2 separate regions of the Homo sapiens genome follow, and region 2 is linked to region 1. The links come from fine-mapping of genetic effects on gene expression. A gene starts in region 1. The other region holds a variant in brackets. All regions are shown on one strand. Distances are from middle to middle.

The links. PIP is the estimated chance that this variant, and not a neighbour inherited with it, causes the effect.
Region 2: its variant is fine-mapped to the expression of NAV2 in lung (TOPMed, PIP above 0.99).

Annotation. Positions count from the first base shown.
Region 1 is chr11:19,711,705-19,714,606 of GRCh38, reverse strand. NAV2 (neuron navigator 2) reads right to left here and starts at 1,770. Exons shown (of 38, transcript NM_145117.5): 1 at 645-1,770. The coding sequence starts at 911. It overlaps LEISA1 (lncRNA enhancing IL-6/STAT3 signaling activation 1), which reads left to right. Exons shown (of 1, transcript NR_015384.2): 1 at 1-2,902. RefSeq lists silencers at 1,702-1,895, 1,536-2,065.
Region 2 is chr11:20,063,563-20,066,464 of GRCh38, reverse strand. The region is part of intron 20 of NAV2 (neuron navigator 2); the gene reads right to left. Among named protein-coding and RNA genes, the nearest start is that of NAV2-AS2, 16 kb to the right of the region's middle. RefSeq lists an enhancer at 968-1,770. The variant A/C (reference allele first, on the strand shown) is at 1,247.

The DNA of each region.
Region 1 (2,902 bases):
CCGCAACAGCCAGCCAAGGCGCTAGGAGTCTCCAGCTGCCGGCCTCAGCTGGTGCACTAGTACCGCAGTCCCAGCACCTTGCCCGGAATCCCGTCACCCCGCAGGATGGGGCAGGGACAGGTCATCTTCAAGCCAAGGGAAGAGCAGGTTCACTGCCACCCGCGATCCCCTTTTCTTCCTGGATCTTACAGCCAGGCTAGGGGGCGTCGAACCCAATGGGGCCTTAGATCATTCCTTGTCCGGAACAGAATCTCTGCGGAACCGCCAGACAGACACACAGCTGCTGCTGCGGATACTGGCTTCTTGGGGCCAAGACCTCAACATGCAGGACCTCACATTTCCAGCGATGCACACGTTTTTTGAGAACATCCCGACCTTTCCTCCTCCCCAGGAAGATGCTGCAGACGTGCCCGCCATCCCAGGTCTCGAAGAGCTCTTAAGGCAAACCTCCGGCACCCGGGCCACACCCACCGGCCGGCCCACTCTCCTCGCGCATCCCCCAACCTGCCGGCCTAAGGGGAATGGTTCCCTTCCCTGGCCACATGGTAGACCCTTCTCCCATCCAGCCCTTTCTCCCACACCATCCCGAAAGAACTATTCATCCATCCTTCCAGAACAGTACCCCGGCAAACGGCATCTCTCACCTGGGTATCGAACCCGTTTTCCACCGAGCCGCTCTTCCGCAGCGGGAGCCCCTCCCCCGCTGGCTCCTGCAGCCCCTGCAGCACCTGCGATTTCAGGGGGATCTGGCTAGGATAGGTGGTCTTGCTCACCTCCACCTTGCTTCCCAACTTCAGGTAGCAGGGCTGGGGGCCCGCCCGGGCCGGGGGCACGTGCAGGATGGGCGCGGCGCTGTGCACGGGTTTGGGCAGTCCCGACTTCATTTTGGAGGCGACCAGGATGGCCGGCATCTTCTCCCGGGGCTTGGGCTTTCCCAGCACGTCCCTGGCAGCGGCGGCGGGGGCGACCGCTAAAGGCAGCGCGGGTAGCAGAGCAGGCGCCGGGCCTTAGCCCACGAGGCGCCCACCACCAGCGGCTAAAAAAAAAATCCCCAGGTCGGGGAACTCGAAGCAATCGGGCGAGCGCGCCTTTGGGGTGCCGGGATGGGAATGGGGGACTGGCCACGGCGCTCAGCGGGTCCCACCTGGACGGATGCTGCCGCCGGGTCTCACACCTCTCCTGGGTGGCCTTTCAAGAGCTCTGGGCGCTCAGGGGCTGCCGCCTCTTGCAAATTTCCTCCTGGGAAACAGAGGCTTGGACGCCCATATTAACTTGTCACTGCATCTCCGAAGTGAGGAGGCCCCTTTGGAAGAGACAGAGGCGGCGGCGACCCACGAGTCCCGTTCCGGAGGCTACGGGTCTGAGCCGGCGAGAGAAAGAGCGAGCAGCCAAGGAAGGAAAGGAGACAGCAGCGAAGGAAGGAGAGAAGAAGGGCGCAAGGGTCCCAAGACGTCTCCACCGAGAGGCAGCTGCCACCCTGCTCGCGAGCACCGCAGTGTCACCCGCGACGCAGCAGAGGTGCGGCAAGAGCCCCCGAAAGGTCTCTCTTGGGGTGACAGTCACCGCTGCCCAGAAGGCCCCCGGACTGAGAGCACCTTAGCGCCTGCGGGTCTGCACATGCTCCGTGAGCTAGATAGAGGCAAGGCTGTGGCCGTGGGGCGCGGGCGCCGGGACGCGCGGCTGGCGGGCCGGGCAGGGCTGCGCTCGGGAGCGGCCGCCGCGCTTCCCGGGAAGGCTGCGCTGGCTGCGGGGCTCAGCGCAGGGGAGGACAGGCTGCTGCCGGCGCTGCTGCGGCGCGCGCTGACAGCCGGGGCCGCCCCGGCGCGCCCATTGGTCCACGGTGCGCCAATCAGCGGCCGCGGGTCTCACTGCAAAGAGGGTGTGGCCTAAACTCTGGCCGCCGCCGAAACTCTGGGGCCGCGCTTGGCCGCGAGTACAAAGCGGGCTGGTGGCCGCTTTGCGGCACTGCCCCGGCCGCGCGCCTCCCGGGGGGCCCACACCCCTGCGTTCCTGAAACCCTTCTTTTGAAAAATGCCCTTTCGAACGCAACCGTCCGCCCCAGAGCCACGCGGGCACGGCTCGAGGGAAGTTTGTTTCCTTTTTCAAATTGCTCCGGTCACCTTAACGGTTTGAGTCTTCCGGAGTCACGCCCGCAGCCTCGCTGCCCCCATCTGGCTTGGGCAGGGCCGAAGCTCGTCTCCCGCTTTAAGAGCGCGCCAGCCATTTCTCTGCCTGCTCTTCCAGGCCGGCTGGGCGGGGGGCCTCCCAACGGCTTCCTCTCCAGTTTTCAAAGGCTGCACATTTCACTTAACTATTTGAAGTATTTATAGGCAAATACAATACGCAGGGAAGCTTCCCGCCCCGAGACAGCTCCTCCACGCAACCTACCACAGACTCTGTAATTAGAGTGGCCTGAAGAAGCCGGGAGAGGCTCCATGACCCCGGCAGGCTCTGGCCAAACCTTGCTGCGTTTCATGGAGCCCCTCCCTGTCCGCGCCTGGGACGCACTGGCCCCAACAGGTTCCTCGACTCGAATTCGCTGTTTGGGTTGCTCTGTGGTTTCCTCGCTGACTGAAAGTGGATGAGAATAAGAAGGAAACTGAGAGATGATCAGGCAGGCCAGCCTTCGCGATTTATGAATGAGGAGCCTCCCACCCTGTAGAACTGCTTGGATTAGAAGTGGGCAAGTTATTTAAGCTTACATGCATGCTTATAAAGCTTCTGTTTTCACATGTAGTAAGGTGGAGGCTTGACGACATTTACCTAATGAGCTGTTGTTTGGATTAAATGAGATGGTTGGTGCATGGCAGTCATTTAGCACAAGTACCTGGCAATGTAAGAGACCAATAAAAGCTGGGCTTTATTTTCCCTGTTGTTAAATTACTGCTGCTTTCCCCCAAAG
Region 2 (2,902 bases), 350 kb before region 1:
GTTTGTATTCCTTCTGAGGTTCAGAGACGTTAAATGTCTTGTATAAAGTCACACTGAACAACCTCCTTATCTAAGAAATGCTTTCAGGAGAAGGTTGGAAGATGTCTTCAGAGCTCAATCTTCCCTCCCAGATAATATTCATTTGTCTTTGTCTGTCCATCTATCCTCACTACCACCACCTATCAAATACTTACTGATTTCCTACTGTGTGCCAGGCACTATTTTTAAGAACCTAAGATAGAGCCGTGAACATGACCAAGTCCCTGACCTTGTGTTGCCTGCATTCTGGTAATAACAGCTAGCATTTATTGAATGCTTACCATGTGCCAGAGACTGTTCCAAGCACTTTACATTCATTATTCATCTAATCCTTTTAACAACTCTTTGAGGAGGTACTAATACTATTGCTTTCTGTTTTGTGTATGAGGAAACTGAGGCACAGGAAGGTTCAGTCATTTGTCCAGGGTCACAGCTGGTAAGTGGCAGAGTTGGGACTGGATCTAAAGTAGTCTGGCTCCAGAGCCTAGGCATATTCTCCTGCACTTTTACTATAGTTACATTCTCACGGGGGCTTTCCAGAAATAAGCCCCAAGTTCAATCCAAAGGGTACAAGTTAATGGTGAGAATGTAACCACTATCTAACATTTAGAAGGCTGGCGGAGGCCTGTTAGCAGGCTTAGCCATCCACATAGGACAAGGCTACTTTGAAACACTTCTATCGACAGGCCCTAACAGCCCTTCCCCATGCCTCTGCCACTGTCTGTCACTGTGCCCACCTGTCTCTGGGGTTGGGCCCCAATTATCAACAGCAGCCTAGAGAAAGCATGTGCTTTGTATCTTGCCCCCCTTGCCGCTGTTCTGCACATCTGGTAACACTATGTGAAGCTGCTAGCCTCCATCCATCCAGCAGCTCTCCTGGGAACTCCAGTGTTCCCTACCAAACAAGAAAGCAAGTCTAATGCCAGAAGTGGCCTTTGAGATTTTCTCTACTCCAAGAGGTAGCCATAACTTTTCCATGGCAATCATTTAGCACTGTGTAATCTTTTCTTTCACTGATAATTAAAATTGCAAATTTCATGCAGAATGAGCATTCTTGAATATTCATTATAGACATTTCAAGGAAAGAATCTACTGTCATCCAATAAGAGCCTTTAAAACTCTCAGCAGGCTCCTTGGTCTGGGTCTGTGGCAACTTAACATTTCAAAGATCTCTTTTCAGACAACAAACAAATACTTTATTCACCTT[A/C]ACATTTACAAAGGTGCCTGGAGCATGTGTTTCAGAATTTCATTATCACGAAGAATGTAATAACAGATAAAGGACCACACCTCAGTGCTAGGCGGTAGCAGAGTCTAGCCAGACTTGTAGTTTTTCTTGAAATTAGTAGACAGCACCAGCATAAAAACATTCCACTGATAGGCTATTTTTTTTTAAGTCTGCAAAAGCAACCTATATTCTCAGAGAAGGCATACTGAGGACAGTAAATGGGAGCCTTTGACTCCATGACTCATGGAATGTCAGAGATTGTAGGGGCCTCAGAAGATCACCTTGCTTGGTTTCCTGATGCCAAGGGCAAAACTGGGGAGACACTCTGAATAACCAGATGACTTGTCCAAAGTCATATGGTGAGAAGAACGCTATGATTACACCTCGGGTCTCTTGTTATCCAGATAAAAATGGAATTCAAAAGTATTATTATTAGGTCTTTACTAATTCATTGAATTTATATTAGCTCAGAAAAGACAATTTCAAATTTCATGAAAACAGTATCTTCACGTCCCCATACCCAGAACAACAGCTACTGAAGGAGAGTCTTTTACTGTAAGGACTTCTAGTGGTTGGCATGAAGGGGCTGCCCCCAGGAACTGCATGTGACAGTTTCCTAGATCTGAAGACACACAGGTTGAGAAGCTTAAGCTCTTTCCCTCCAAGTCTGCATAATGCTGGCCAGTCTCCCATTTTTTTACTCTTCTGGAAAACCCACTCCCCTCTGTGTTGGCAAGAACCCTTGGGAATGCCACAGGGAAAACACGGGGCTGGGCACTGAAACATCCACTACAGCTTCTCTGTGCCAGTCCTGTGAAGCTAGAGTCCCATGTCCCTCTGGTGCCTACAGCTTCCTCCGTCAGTAGCAGGCTCCTTTCTCTCCTAAATTATATCCTAGGGGTTAGTCCAGAGCCTGGTATATCCATGGTGCTAGTAAATACTGTTGAAGAAGTGCATTTAGGTTTGAAAGTACCAGCCTTGGTACCCATATCCCACAGTTTCATTCTAGAAGAAAGGACATAGTTTATCTACTGGCTGACAGCTGAAAGACCATCTCTATGCTTTCTTAGCAGATGATGGCTTAAAAAACCTCTCTCCAAGGTTACTCTATATAAAGCCTTTAAAAGGAAAGCTAGGACTTAGTGATGAAATTTCAAACAAGATGACTAGCTGAGGAAAGAGGAATTTTAGAGTTGGAGGGGTGAGGTGGGTAGAAGCAAGGGTTTCTAGGTCCTTCAAAACAGACCATATCAGCAATCACTGAAGTTTGTTTGCTCAATACAGGCCTAAGTTAGGCCCTGGTATCTTTAACTTGATTCTGGGGTGTCCTCTTATTTTCCAGGAGCTATACACAGTGTATTCTGCTATATAGAAACCAGGCATTATCAAAACCTAAATTATTAAAACATTTGTTTCCATGGGATTAAGGGCTAAAGAATTTCCAATTCACAATTAACAAAGAGACTTTTTTTTTCCCTGTAGAAATTCCCAAATTACTGTTTTTAAAGTAAATAGCATACAGCTATAGCCATGCGCGGTGGCTCACGCCTGTAATCCCAACACTTCGGGAGGCTGAGATGGGCGGATCACTTGAGGTCAGGAGTTCAAGAACAGCCTGGCCAACATGGTGAAATCCCG